Regions from separate parts of the Homo sapiens genome. Here region 1 is linked to region 2. The links come from fine-mapping of genetic effects on gene expression. Tissue or cell type: esophagus mucosa. Region 2 holds a variant in brackets; the other region holds the start of a gene. All regions are shown on one strand. Distances are between the middles of the regions.

Region 1 (8,192 bases), 120 kb before region 2:
CTCCTAAAATTCTCTACAGCCTAGGAAACCCAAATTAACTTTTTGTCTGTTTTTGACATAACAGTGACTATCCATTTAACAGAGTAGAGTGCACGGTCTGAAATATAATTCTTCAAGTAGCCTCTTTTATAAAGAAAAAGAAAATACAGCACCATCTGGTAAAAATAAAATAAAGTTTGTAGTGAAGCAGGGGAACCAGGACGGTATCAGGCACGGTATTGTCTCCTTTTCTCCTTAATAAAGTCATTTTATGGATCTTATGTATTTTGCATTGTAGAGAAAGCACTTTTTCTTAGAACACACAAAACGCATATAAACACAGATAAGGAGGCTCTAGCAAGATGCTTTGAACTCTTTGGAAAGCACCTATAGAATGCATTCTTGTCAATATTTTATATGGTAAAACTTTGAAATATCACAAGAGTTTCAAAATGTTCCCAACAAAATTGAAAGTCATACATTGTTACATCATGAAAAAGTGGGACCTGAACCAGATAATAATTTTCTAGGTCATGCAAATATTCATGGTTTTACTTCCTTCTCATTAAAATACCCATACCAAACCTATGATAAGGCATAGGTTTCAGACTCAGACAGACCTGAATTCAAATTTGACCCTTTCGGCTCCAAGTCTTGGGTAAATTATTCATTCTCAGAGAGTTGTGGTTTCTCTTTTGATCCTCATTTGTTAAAACAGGCAATTTTAATTATATCTCATGGTGGTTGAGATGGTTAAATGAGATGATTTATATAATGTCCATTGGACAGCACATAGTATATAGTAATTGCACAACAAATATGTGGTTATCAGTTCATTTAGGATTTATCCATGCAATTATTAAACCAGTGCATTGGGAGTAAAATTCTTCACAGACACATGAACTCTCTAAAAATCTAATAGAAGTGGATAAATTAAAAACACAGGGTGTTTATAACTTGCTATATGCATAAAGTAAATATGAAATATTCTAATACTCAATTATTCCATTTTTACTTTTTATTTATATATATAAACTCACAAATTTGTTTTTACATGTAAATATAAATTTTATATATTATATGTAAATATACCTTAAATATAATACTTTACATATTATATAGATATATAAATAAATATAAATGCACTTTAAAATATACTCAGTGGTAATTTAAACTTGGATGCTACTGGCTATTTCAGTAATCAGAAGTTTAGATTTTCACATTTCAACCATCAGCTTTTACTGCTTTATTCTCTGATAATGTATTTTACAATTTTGTTTCAGGAAAATAGTATTAGTTTTACCACTACTAACTTGTGGTCCCATCTTTGGCAGCTACTACCTCAAAACCATCTTTATAATAATCAGAAATTAGAATTCCAAATAAGTCATTTAAATTCATTTGTCAAACTGCTCCTTTTCCAGGCTTTCCAAAAGATGCTAATAAATGGTAATTATCTTCAGGTATTAGCAAAAAAATCTAATTTTAAAATTTGGGAACCTATTTATTACCATTCTCAGTATTAAATATCTTTCCCAGTTAAAAGGATGAAATCTGTAGATTCCCTCCTCCCCATTTTGCAATCCATCAACTTTACAGAAAACTATTGATTGTTTTCCAGTGAATATAAAAACATAACTAATATGTAGTGAATTATTATGAGCTCGCCACTGACTAAAGCACTTTAAATGTATTAATATTATCTCATTTAACTTCAAATTAATGACTCTTTTCCCCTACTTTTAGATAATGATACTCAGAGAAGTAGAGAAGCTGGCCTAACATCACAAACCTATGCTGTTGTGGAGCTGGCATTTGAAACCAGGTGTTTTCATTACATTCTCTGATTTTAAATACTTTCAAAAAAGCAGGAAATCTACATGGACTTCAAAGAAAATTGCCTAAGAATATCTTCTTTGAATGCATGCTTTTAACATTAATGTTTTTTCAGGATTATTATATCAACTGGATTTCTCACACTCAGTTTCAGTTTCTTCACCACTCAAATATGCATAGTTTCTCCTCCTTGGGTAGAAGCCACAGTGTTCCTCAGTTACAAGGAGTGCTTTATATGAGAAATGGCATAAACAACTGTTGATACTTGTTATGGAGAAAAGTCAAATAACTCAGAAGCATGTGAAATCTGAAGTTTAATATTTTGAAAGAGTTGCTATGTAGAAAACAGGTGGCAGAACTAGAACCCATGGAGGAAAATTAAGGGATGAAGATTTTGGTTCAACACCAGAAAAAAATATTTTTAAAAAGAAATGTAATTAGTGTTGTCTAAATCATAATTGAACAGTCTCAGGAAGCAATGAGCTCTCTGTGGATAAACTCATATTCTGGAATGTAATAAGGCAAAGATGTAATAGAAAATGATCCAGCAATAGATGGGGATAGAAAAAATATAAGCATATAGTTATATAGTTTGTGTCAGTTTCCTCATGATTGTCAAGGGTTGGTGGAGGGTTAGAGAAGAGGAGGTCGCAGGATGCTATGGATTGAATATCTGCATACCCTTACCCCCAAATCAAGTTAGTATGTTGAAGTTTAATCATTAAAATGATGGTATTTATAGGTGGAGCCTTTGGGAGGTAATTAGGACATGAGGGTGGAACCCTAGGAATGAGATTCATGCCCTTATAAAAAGAGATATGAGAGGGCTTGTGTCCTGTCCGCTTTCCTCCATGTGTGTTAGATTGAGCAGCTAAAACAGATACACCATACATTGGGTAGCTTATGTGACCACACAGTTCTGGAGGCTGGGAAGTCCAAGATGAAGGTGTCAGTAGATCTAGTGTCTGGTGAAGGCTGGCTTCCTGGTTTGCAGATGGCTGCTTTTCCCTTATATTCCCACATGGAGGAAAGCCAAAAGAAGCAAGCCCTCTCATATCTCTTTTTATAAGGGCACTAATCTCAGATGAGACAGAGCAACATAGAATGAAAAAATAAAAAGAACAAAATAGGGAGCATGAAATTTTAGTGACTTGACAAACAATAGACATTTTTCTTTCTCTGCTCATACATCGACAGAAACTGGGAATATTTTTGTCATATTCTGCCACACTTGAACAAATTTCAGTGGAGGCATCATAACTGAGCCTGTGTTAAGACCAAACCTTTACTTGACTTACAAAACTTTCTGTGAGTTTTTTTCTTAGTATGGTTGATTTCTTCAAGAAAAAGGATGTAAGTTTACCAATAAGGTATTTAAAGTACAAGTTACTTAATTCTTTATTAGCAAATAGTTGGCTGCTAATTTTTGCTTCTGAAAACACTTAATAATTAAAGGCTACAATATTTATATCTCAAGAAACGTCTCAGGTTTTTTCTCGTCACTAAGCTTAAATCTTACTCTTAAGCAAAAATATTTTAAATTTGAAAACATACATTGTATTTGACTATTAGCTTTTTTTTTAAAGAGAAGTCATTAAACTTAAAGCTAAAAATAAATTTTATATTTATGTGTAGCAGTTACCATATTGATGTGCTAAAAAGTTTATAGATTTAGCTACCGCAATAACAACTTTCTAATCAAAAGTTGAGACTGTTGTGAACAACTCTTTTGTGAATATAACCTAGCATTGTACAGTATAGATTGACTATCGCATATGCAAAATGCTTGGAACCAAAAGTGTTTCAGATTTCAGATTTTTTTTTTTTCAGATTTGGGAATATTTATTTGCATATGCATAATGAGACATCTTAAGGATGGGACACAAGTCTAAACACAAAATTCATTTATGTTTAATATACACTGTATACACAAAACTGAAGATAATTTTATATAATATTTTACGTAACTTTGTACCTGAAACAAAGTTCTGTCTGTGTTTTGACTGAGATTTGTCATATGAAATCAAGTGTGGAATTTTCCACTTGTGGCATCATGTCAGCAATCAAAAAGTTTAGATTTTGGAGCATTTCCAGTTTTGAACTTTTGGATTAGAGATGCTCAACCTGTATTTCCTACAAACTGTCATTAGGAAAAATCAGAAGACTAATTATTGTCTAAATTTTACCGTCTAGAATTTCTAATATCATTCAGCATTTTCAACTTTTTTCTTAATAGTTTCATATTGGACTGCTTGCTTCAAATTCACACATTAACCTAATAATTAAAAGCTAGTGGAAAGAATTATCAGATTAAAGCCTTAATTTCTACAAAGCATAAGTTAATAGAGAAAAACAAGTGCAAAGAGAGGCACCAGGTGGTTCATAGGACCTTCAGGTAAAACAAATGAGATTTTATTAGGCTTACAGATAGAATTTTTGCCTGTGTGTCAAGGGATAACAGGAGTGTTGATTTGAGTGGCTTATGAAACAGGCATGTTTAGCTCAGCAATATTACTCATCACTTGGCTTTTTAATCTGCCAAGAGATGGGTACGATTTGCACTTATGAACTGTGTGTAATTATGGTGATTCAGGTTTTGGCTTATAATGAATCCTCCATCACAGTCTGTTTTCTCGGTCTTTTATTTTCTGTTCCTCTAAGGGAAGAGAGACCAAAGAGAATTCTACTTTGACCCTGGCTTAAGAGTGGAACATAGATGTCTATAAAACTATGTGGTATGTACATTTATAAAAATTTTAATTTGCATTTTCTCTAGGTTTTATGTTTTTGGTGATAACAGAATAAAGTGTGCATGCCATCCAAGATAAATGGATGAAGGAAGTTCACTTCTTTTTAATTATCTTATACTGACAGATAAAGCAAAATAGAAAAAAAATTCTGTATTTAACCTTAACAAGCTGAGACACACTAGAGAAGTGGAAAATAGATTGTGTGCATCTGATCGTGCTGCACATTCCCTTTAGGTTGCAATCTCTGCTGTTATTACCGACAACAACTGAGACTACAGTTTTAACTCTGTATTTACTTCTAGTTATCCCACAATTGGTACATAGTATTGGATGGAGCCCTGTATTTCAAGGAGTTCAACTACCTAATTTTCATAGCTGAGATAACTAAGTTTCTGAGTCCGTTTTCCTTTTTCCAGTCTGATCTCTCCTTTTCTCAAGGCTACTTTCGTTTCTGATAACATACTAAAGGTTATAGGATTTATCGGTATTTTGCCTCCTGGGGTCATTTGTTATTAAAAAAGAAACTCTATTCAAATAACTGAATCTCTACTATTGGATTTTCCAAAGCTATGATAGACCAGCTAGTGAAACTATTTTGTACTGGAATTTGGCAGGGTGATGGGGTGGGGAGAAGGTGTGGAGAGGAATTCTTGTCCTCAGTCCTGATATTTCTTTCCAGGTGAATGTGGTCTTCCGTGTGCTACACTCCTTGCCTCTCTCTGCTCTTCTATTCACTATCTACCAGAGAAGATGGAGTGATTCACTCTGATTAATAAATTTGGAAAAAATCAATTAGACATGCTCCGAATAGTTCCACCCTTTTTGTCTTAGAAGACAGCTGCCCTCAGAGAGCAAGATTTTACCTTTGTAAATTGGTACACATGATCTAGCTTAGCATTGCTTTTAACAGGGGGAAGTCTGTATAATTCCTGGATTATTATCATGCCAGTGGGTTCTCATATTATACTTTATCCTCCAAATTAATTTTTTGTGGTGAAATTGATGCTTTTACTTCTTTTCTTTTCTTTTCTTTTTTTTTTTTTTTTTTTGAGACGGAGTCTCACTCTGTAGCCCAGGCTGGAGTGCAGTGGTGCCATCTTGGCTCACTGCAAGCTCCGCCTCCCGGGTTAGCGCCATTCTCCTGCCTCAGCCTCCCGAGTAGCTGGGACTACAGGCACCCGCCACCACGCCCGGCTAATTTTTGTATTTTTAGTAGAGACGGGGCTTCACTGTGTTAGCCAGGATGATCTTGATCTCCTGACCTTGTGATCCACCCGCCTCGGCCTCCCAAAGTGCTGGGATTACAGGCGTGAGCCACCGCGCCCAGCCGATGCTTTTATTTCTATCTTCTCATTTGTGTAAAGTGAATAATGATATCTCACTGTGATTTCTAGTTCATTTTTGTGACTCACAAATATAGATACTACTTCCGTTATATTACCTGTTTATTTTCTTATGTGAATTGCTTTCTCATACCCTTTTCTAAATTTTCTCTTCAGTACTTTACAAAGGGATTTGAAAGTGAGTTTGGTGATAATACGAAAGTATTTCAAGTGGACAAAGTGCAAATAATAGTATCAGTTGATGTTAGCATACACACACAGGAATGTCTTCTTTTATAGTAAAATTTATTTATTTATTTATTTATTTATTTATTTATTTATTTATTTATGACAGAGTCTTGCTCTGTCGCCCATGCTGGAGTGCAGTGGCCCTATCTCGGCTCACTACAAGCTCAGCCTCCCAGGTTCACGCCATTCTCCTGCCTCAGCTTCCCGAGTAGCTGGGACTACAGGCGCCCGCCACCACACCTGGCTAATTTTTTGTATTGTTGTTAGTAGAGACGGGGTCTCACCGTGTTAGCCAGGATGGTCTGGATCTCCTGACCTCGTGATCCGCCCGCCTCGGCCTCCCAAAGTGCTGGGTATAGTAAAATATTGAGTGTGTGTGTATATGATAGAGAGAAAATAATACTAATTTTAAGAGAGTTATATGAAAATTCTTTTAGATTTCTAAGGAAAAGACTGACTCGAACAAATGGACATTTTAAGAAAGCTATTGCTACTTAGTAATGTATGAGTCAAATGGATAGAAACTCCACTATTTGATGTGAGGTGTCTAGAATGTTGGGAAAGTGTTAATTCAATAGTGCTGTAGACAAAAAGTTTTCCACATTGATCCTATTTGTTCACCCATCTCCCTCCACCTAGGGGAACTACTTTTTAAAAGATGTTATGTTGTTCAAATTTCATATATAACCAATGTAAGTGAGCCATTAGTGTTTTTGGAGTATGAGGTAATAGATTCCTGTCCCCCACCAACTCCCTTATTTATCCCCTTTATGATTTCCTCACATAGCTAATAATGCAACAAGAAGAGCTTTAGGGGTGCAGAGAACTCAGAAATATCCCATTGCAATAGAAGGATATGTTTCCTTTTAAGGTAGCTCCGAAACAGCCCATTATATAATCATTTTGTCCCAAAGCAGTGGCTTTCATACTCACCCTGCCCATGGGCCTGACCATAACTGTTATTTCACTAAATCAGGTTATTTTTGGAGTGCCCAATTCTAAGTTGGCTGCTACTGGTGACATACATTTCATTATAGTTTGAGAGTTGTCAATATAAATACTCCACTCATAGACACCAAGAAGGTTCTTAGGAGGCAAGATCTAATCTTTAGAAAAATTTTATTGACATTTCATAAAATATTTATTTAAAGCTTGAGAAGGAAACTTTCTGGCTGTTAATGTTTTTCAGCTACCAATGAGTCTAACTCACGCATCTTTTTTCTTTTGGTTGCAATTATTATACAACCTCCTGCACGCCCGCTCCATTGCACCTGCCTCTCAAAACCTAAAGAAAAAAGATTTAAGCAGCTAAAATTTTAATAAAATATGGAACAGTCACATGAATTTCTGAACTTTAAAATGGGGAAAACAATCATAGGCTCTGATGGCTAATTTCAGAATCCTTTACATTTCATAATGAAAATTTCTATGTATAAAGATTCAAACTATTTGGAGACTTACATTTCAAAGGATAATTCTACTTTTTAGGCACTGTAACTTATTTTTATCCAAGAGAAAGAAGAAATGGTTAACTGAAAAGATTTAGTGACAGTGTTGTGATAGGAGTCAAAACGTCTCTAGTTGGCATAAGCATAGGAAAATAACTTTGTTGCAAAACACTTGAGCTCTGTTTGCAGAAATGAATGGCTAGCGGATATTTTTGTTCTCTCTGTTATACTAATGGATAAAGGCATGCTGATAAGTCACTGTAGCTCTGTGGGGTTAATGCCAGAATGAAATACCAGAGCTGTACTCTTTCTTAGGAAATAGCAGATTCTTACAGACATGATCACAACACATTTTACAGACAAACTACATTGCCTCATGTACTGTAGCCCCTATTCTGTGCTTTGGGGGTCACCACAATAATTTCTCTTAGAAATTTCCTAATTTCAATAAAGCCTACCATGGAAACTTATTTGGTTGTTTGTTCCCTCTCTTATATCTGCTCCTCTGCGTCTTTCCCTTCTTTTCTGGCATTTGTTTTTCTTCTGTTCCTTTGGAGAAAGCACAGCCTTTAGAGCTAGTCAGTTTAGAATTTAGCTCAAATTTTATC
Region 2 (8,192 bases):
GCACATGTATGTTTACTGCAGCACTATTCACAATAGCAAAGACTTGGAACCAACCCAAATGTCCAACAATGATAGACTGGATTAAGAAAATGTGGCACATATACACCATGGAATACTATGCAGCCATAAAAAATGATGAGTTCATGTGCTTTGTAGGGACATGGATGAAGCTGGAGACCATCATTCTCAGCAAACTATCGCAAGGACAAAAAAACCAAACACTGCATGTTCTCATTCATAGGTGGGAATTGAACAATGAGAAACATGGACACAGGAAGGGGAACATCACACAGTGGGAACTGTTGTGGGGTTGGGGGAGGGGGGAGGGATAGCATTAGGAGATATACCTAATGCTAAATGACGAGTTAATGGGTGCAGCACACCATCATGGCACATGTATACATACGTAACAAACCTGCACGTTGTGCACATGTACCCTAAAACTTAAAGTATAATAATTAAATGAATTAATTAACTTTAAAATAAAACATTTTATTAAATATGAAAAAAAAAAGAAGAAGAATCCATGGGAAAAACAGGGAGGGGTGTAAAGTTCTCCAGGGAGTGGTGAAGCAACTGAAGATTTCTTACCATTTTTCCATGAGGATAGTTGCTGATCTGGACCTTAATAGAGGCTGAGAATCAGGATCAGGACTTGCTAGATGGCTATTTACCAGGAACAAGAATTTATGAGAATTTGGATTCCCTGTATAAGGTTAGGATGACAAAATACAATTAGGTTATTTTGCCCTGACTTTCAAATTCATAGTGTTGTAATAATAAAATATATATTCATTTGTGCCTGGCTTCCTTTGTGCAACCTAGTGTTTTAGAGATTTATTAAGTTATTTATTATATCAGCAGTTTGTTCTTTTTAATATGATTGCTCAGTGTTACTTTGTATGAATATACCACAATTTGTTTATCTTTTCTGCTGTTGGACATTTGCATTGCTTCTAAGTGTTAGCTGTTATGAATTAAGCTCTATTAGGTTATTGTACATGTGCTTTGTGATTATATGCCCAGATTTATCTGAGTATGCACTTAGAAGAATTGCTATGTGACATAGTAGTCTATGTTTTATTTCAGTAGATAGTGTCAAAGAGTTTTCTAAAATGATTGTAAAAATGTTCCTTTCCACCAGCAAAATTCTGCGCATTTTCACTGACACTTAGTATTCATTATTTTTTACTTAAACATTCCGGTGAATGTGTAATTATAATCTTAGTTTGAATTTAATTTGCATTTTCCTGATGAATAATGATAGTAATGTAGTTGAGTTCCTTTTCATATATCTTTGGTTTGAATATGCTACTTTGTGAATTGCCTGATCATCTCTGCCATTTTAAAATTTGGATTGTTTACCTCTTCCTGATTGTTTTGTAGGAGTGTATTATGCATTCTGGATATAAGCCTTTTACCAGATTCTTGTATTGTAAATATTTTTTTCCAGTCTGTGGCTTGCTTATTCAATTCTTAATCATGATTTTGAGAAACAGAAGTTTTTAATTTTAATGTAATTCAGTTGAGTTTTATATTTGTTGTCATTGCTTTTCCTGTTTAAGAAACCTTTGCGTAATCCTAAGTCAGGAATATATTCTGTTTTTTTTTTTCCCCACACAAGTTTGACTGCTTTAATTTTAGATTTAGGTCTAAGATCAAATTCACATTTATATTTAAGAATAGTATGAAGTAAATCTCAAGGTTCATAATTTTTCCATATAGATAACCAAACATTCTACTGTCACTTACAGAAAAGTCCATCCTCTTTTGCTCTAATTAGGTGACTATATTGGAGTGACTGGAAATATGTGGGTATATTTCTAGGTTTTCTTTTCTGTCCATTGGTCTATTTGTCTAACAATGCACAATTAACTCCTCAATTAATATAACTTTATCATGTCTTGAAATTTGAGAATATAAGACCTCTAATGTTGTTCTTTGCTATTTAAGATTGTCTTCGTTTTTTGGGGGAACTTTTGTTTCTATATAAGTTTTATGATCAGCTCATCAATCTTCACCAAAAAAATTGCTGACATGTTGATTGCAACTATATTAAATTTATAGATCAATATTTAGTAATTTGGCATCTTAACAATATTGAACTTTCATAAACTTTCTAATGTTTTAAGTATTCTTTAGTTTCTCCAAATAACATTTCAACATTTTTAGAATAAAAGTCTTGTATATCTTTTACTGCATCATTACTATGTGAATTTTTATGAAATTATTAATCATATTTTAAATTTTTATTTATAATTGTTTATTGTTGGCATATACAAACACAAATAAATTTTCTACATTAACCTTGGATCCACCCAACTTCTTTAATCCATTTTTGAATTATAATGGTCTGTAGATTATTTTGAATTTTCTACATGAAATTATATCATCTTAGAATAAAAATTTACTCTTTCTGTATTAGTACGTATTACCACAATAATACTATGTAGAAAGTTGACTTTAAACTCACTGTTCTAATAATTATTCATATTGTGAATTTGAAAATCAGAGATTTAGGTTTGGTGGGATTTTTGTTTGTTTGGTTTGTGTTTTGTTTGTTTGTTTGTTTGTGTCTTCCTGAGTTACATTTTCTGTCTACAGTTGGCTGGCTATGCAGTGAAGCTCCATATGTCCCACATTCATTCTTCAGAATAACTTGGGCAAGTTCTCATGGTGAAAGTAGAGGTGCAAAGGTAAACAAGTCCAATTATCTAAGTATGTGCGAAGTCTCTATTTGTGTCTTGTTTACAAACAGCACGTGGCCAAAGCTATGAATCACAACATTAAGGGCTGAGTAAAATTTCCTGCCCAGACTTGGACAGTACTTGAAACTTGTATACGAAAAGAACAGATATAAAGAGGGGAGAAAGAATTTGGGCTGAAATTCAATCTATCACACTTTCCCAACCTAATAGCTCATATTTCTTTTTGTTTGATGAGTTAGTTCATCAGTACAATGCTGATAGGAAGACTGATAGTTAACATTTATGTCGTGTTTCTATATGTAATAGGAAGGATCTGGAGTACATTTTTGATGAATATAAAATTTTAAGTTTATGGTTTTCTTCTTTCAGCTCTTCAAGCATTTTTTCCTACTGTCTAATGAACAGTCTGTATTAATTTTAGTTTTGTTCCTGTCTTTATAAGTTTACCTGTTCTCTCTTTTTCAAAATAAACTGTTAATTTTAGAGCCATTTTAGATTTACAGAAAAATTGTGAAGAGAGTACAGAGTTGCCATTACCCCCAT[A/C]AATGCAGGTTTTTCCTGTTTTAACATCTTACATTAGTGTGGTAAATTTGTTACAATTAATTAGGCAATATTTATACATTAGTATTAAATACATCCATATTCTATTCAGATTTTGTTCATAATGTTCTTTTTTGTTCCAGGATTTCATCTGAATACCAAATTACTTTTGGTCATCATGTCTTCTTAAGCTCCTCTTGGCTGTGACACTCTCAGACAAGAATTTTGATAATCATGTTTTTATAACCTTGACAGTTTTCTAGAGTACAGTCAGGTATTTCCCACAATGAGAGTTGTATGATGCTTTCCTATAATTAGACTGGGATGATGGGGATACATGGAGGGAAGGCACAGAAGTAAGGCATGGAGGTAAATCATCGTGGAAAAGCTATTTTATCACAGTATGCCAAGTGTACATAACATTGTAGATGTAAACCATGATTACCTGGATGAGGTAGCAATTGCAGATTTTCTTACTGTAAAGTTATTCTTTTTCCTCCCTTGTTATATAGCACCATTTGGAAGCAAGTCACTACGCATAATTCACAATTGAGTAATAAAGATTTATGCTTCACCTCTTTGAAGGTAGAGTATCTACATATATTATTTGACATTCATCTCTATTTGTTCAGTCATTTATTCATATCAATATGGATTCATGGATAATTACATGGGTACTTTATACTTTGGCTTATAATACAATACCACCTTTTATTTTACTGTTCAGATGTTTCCAGCTTTGGACAATGGGAGCTCTTTCAGGTGACTCTTAGTCCCTTTGACATAATACATCATTGTGTTTAGTATGTTTGTTTCACTTTTTAAATTTTTCTTCATTTTCAAACACTATAAGATGCCAAAAACTCATCTTGCATATTAACTGCCCACGTCTTAGAATTAGATATTTCTCTAAGAAGCCCTGATTCCTTTTGTTGGTAGTGTCAGTCCTCCAAATTTGTTCTTCTTCATTATTAGGTTGATTATTTATTCTAGGTCTTTTATCTTCTCATATAAACTTCACAAAAAATTTTCTACTTTTTCCATTAAAGCCTTTAATATATTAATTATAGTTCATTTTAATCCCCTCTCTGATAATTTCATTGTCAACTTTATATCTGCATCTGGTTTTGATACTTTTTTTCTCTTCAGAATCTGTTCGTTCTTGCCTTTTGCCATGTTTAAAGTCAGACATGATGTATCAGGTAATAAAAACTGAAGTACACGTTTAGTGTAAAGGTTTTTGTTAATCTGGGTGCTTTAAACTGTATTTAATATCTGATGGGCTGTGCTTAATGTGTATGCGTCTGCAGGTGTCAGAGGTTTCAAATTTCTCCAGTGACCTTATTTTTGTGTCACTGGTTGACTTGGGCTTCCCTCAGTATTCCTCCTCAAATAATCTTTGTCTCACAACTCTTTTAGCTGAAATACAATGTATTATTTTAGAGCCCTGTTTTTTTGGTGGTAAGTTGTGAAGGAGAGGAAGCATTCTGTAATATTAAAATTAAATTTTGCTATTTTATTGGGCCTGTGCTCCTGGCTCTGACCTTCACAAGTGTTTCTTAAATTCCTTCTTTCACTGTGCATGAAACAGGAAGGCTCAAGAGGGTTGCAGTGAGAGTAAGCCCATTCCTCCAAGTAGGATAAAGCTATGGCAAAGCTTTATCCTGTGGACAGTAGGCGTTTGTAATAGAAGGATGCTGTTAGCTTATTTCTTTTTCCCTTCTTCTGCTAGAGCCACAAAAGGATCTTTTTCAGATCTTCACTATGAGGTCCTGGTAGGGTTCCTGGAGGTAAGACACACAATGTTCCACCTGCCCTTCCACTCCCCCTGCCTATTGCAGCCCCAGCAGTTTCTCATTCTTAAACTCATCTGCAATCAGCCATCAACATTTCATCAAAATGACCAATTAAGTGTATTTATCAATTTATGGCTCCAGTGGTTTTCACTCCAGGTAAGAAGATTTGTACTGTGACTCTTGATTCACATGTCTCTACATTTTGTGGTGATAAATTTTATCCTGCAAATAATTTCTTCTCTGATGAGTCCGAGAAAACTCACTGATTTTCAGTTTGTTGAGTTTTTTCTTTGGTGTAGAGATGAGAGTCACAACTTCCAAACTCCGTGTAGGAGCTGAAGTCAGAAGTATTTATTGCTTTAAAGATTTTGTAGCACTGTTTTCTAGCAATTTGATTATGGCACTACTTAATGTGGTTTTCACTGTGTTTATCCTCCTTGGCGTTTAGTAAAATTATTAAATAAGTAAGGTTGGAGTTTTATTTAAACCTGGAAACCATAGATGTTATTTTCTTCAAAAATTTTATGCTTGTCTTCCTTTTTTCTTGTGTTCTAAAGACCCATATGTTAGACCATCTGATACTACATACACTTGAAGCTCTGTACAATTTTTTTCAGTCTTTTTTTCTTATTTTTGCAGTATCTATTCTAATGTTAAATGTATCCAGTAAATTTTTTATTTTTTTCACTCTAGAAGTTCTACTTTGTCCTTTTAAAATAATTTTTATTTTCCTTCATTATTTTCTTGTATAACTTTACATTTTGAGCACATTAAACATAATATTTGTTTCAAAGTCTTTCCGTGATAATTTCATTGTTTGATTTTCTACTGGGTAAGGCTCACATATTTCCACTTCTTGTCATCATTATACCTATTTTACGGGAATTGCAATATTTTGAATGTATGTTGCTGTGTGTTAGGTCTGTTGTCTTCCTTTAAAATGTTGGATTTTGTACAGGCATGCAGCTGTTACTTGTGGATCAATTTGATTACTTGCAGGCTTATTTTAAAGCCTTTTGTAAGAGCTCATTTGGAATAGTTCTTACTCTGGGGATGGGTAATCCCTACTACCATACTATAGTTCTTTTCTGGTTTCTGCTGAATGTACTGAGTGATCAACAAATATTCACTCCGCCTTTCCAGAGCTCAGGTGGCTCACAGCACTATGAAAGCTGAGAAGTTTTTACCTTTCTGCTTACTAGGGGTCGTTTTACTAATCTTAAACTTCCACCTCATCCATGCATAGCTTAGTATTCAAGGGGATCCCTGTACAGATTTCTAGGGCTTGTTTCCTTAGTAATTCCCTCCCCTCTACAGCATCTCCCCAGTTTTTAGTCATTTCACCCTCCCTCAAATCTGATCCCTGTTTTCTCAACTCAACATATCCACTGCGCTCTATTTGTCGTCCATTTAATATCATGGTTAAGTGTGGTTAAGAATTTTTCTCTAGAAATAAAGCTAGTGGGATCCTGGGGCTCACCCTGCTTATGTGGCTTCTCTCAGTGACTACAGTCTTTTGCTGCTTGCTGTCCAAATTCTAAAAAAATTTCTGTCCTGTATTTGTTCAGCTTTTTAATTGTTTTGGTGGGAAGGTAAATTCAACCATTTTACTTCATAATGCTCACAAGCTAATTTTTACTTTATGTGCTGCCGAAGTGAACACTCCAGAAGCTAATTTTAAAATCAAACTTAAGTAAAAATAAAGGAATTATTGACCATCAGCTAAATATTTCTTTATTATATGAGGTTCTATCTTAAAAGCAATTTTCTCCCTAAGGTAAGAAATGAGATTATGAAGAACAGTAAGTGGTTGTAATCTCTTTTCTTTTTCCTTTTTTAATATGGTGTTTCAAATTTAAACAATATCTCTTCACTTTGATATGAAAAATAAGGACATTAGATCCTTTGCCTCATGCCCTTAGTTTATTAATTCCATTTTATATGTTTCATAACATTAACTTTGATTATATAGCCACAACTTGAGAAATTATCTTGTATCTGTTCTCTATTTAAATGGAATCACATGTCATCTACAATCATTTTATGATGGCTTTCCATTCCACTATTATTTTGACTTCTTATTTACCTTTTAATTAGCTCAAATTTATCACTCCTGGGTTTTTGTTTTGTTTTATTGTTTATAAGAAAGATTCATGCTATATTACTCATTATTATTCATGGGGTTGTTTTTTATAGTTGAGCATCTACAACTTTATCCTCACACCAGAATGAGGTTTGAGCTGGATCACAATTGGTTGTCTTTAGAACTTGGTAAATACTGCTTTTTCTTGATGTTGTGTGTCTGATTTTACTTTTTTAAAATACTGTACTTTTTGATTTACAGATACAGTTCTTTCTTCACTATAGGAGAAATTATCATAAGTATTTAAATGTATCTGCGATTTCATTTAATGACTTTCCTACTTCAAACGTAACTATTTTCATTAGGCTTATCTATATTCTGGATTTATCAGGTTCTTTCTGAATGGCCTAATTGATTTGCCTTCTTTATCTACATTGGTTAGAGTTATTCCAATCTTTTTCTCTATGATGAGAATTTCAGAAGTAACTAAAGTTTTGGCTGTGTTTATTTGTCAGTTTGAGATTATTGTTCTTTAGTGATTTTCTATGTTTTTGCAAGTCTGCAATCTCAATTAAATATACCTTTCAATCCTATGCTTAAAGTCGAAGCTTACTAAATTAGTCATACCAAATTATTCTACATTTTGCAGTGATTGGATATAACTCTTGATTCGTGAATATTTTCTTCAGCACTGTGTACTTCGTCTACCTTTTTGCATACTATGCTCTTGCTATTTGTTCTTGTTTGATACTTATGAAGCACAATTGCCACACCATTTTTTTCTTATATTGCTCACTTTTGGGCAGCAGTTTTCACATTCTCTCTTCTCACTTTTTTTTTTTACATCTCTCAAGAGAGATGTAAAAACATTTCCTTGAAATAAACATTAAATTTTAGTTTGTTATTTTGTGCAGTATTTCCCCTTGTATAGCCTAATGGTGGTGGACTGTGGAAAGACTTTACCAAGAAAAGATGAGTTGAAATGTAAGCATTTATTTTTAGAATATCTTAAATCCATTCTAATTGCTTTTGTTTGTTTTGTTTATTAAAGTCCCGTACCAAGGT

What was found. PIP is the estimated chance that this variant, and not a neighbour inherited with it, causes the effect.
Region 1: it holds the start of LINC01239, and the variant in region 2 is fine-mapped to the expression of LINC01239 in esophagus mucosa (GTEx, PIP 0.97).

The regions. Positions count from the first base shown.
Region 1 is chr9:22,641,747-22,649,938 of GRCh38, forward strand. It overlaps LINC01239 (long intergenic non-protein coding RNA 1239), which reads left to right and starts at 4,454. Exons shown (of 6, transcript NR_038977.1): 1 at 4,454-4,550.
Region 2 is chr9:22,764,571-22,772,762 of GRCh38, forward strand. All of the region lies in intron 4 of LINC01239 (long intergenic non-protein coding RNA 1239), which reads left to right. Among named protein-coding and RNA genes, the nearest start is that of LINC01239, 120 kb to the left of the region's middle. The variant A/C (reference allele first, on the strand shown) is at 3,252.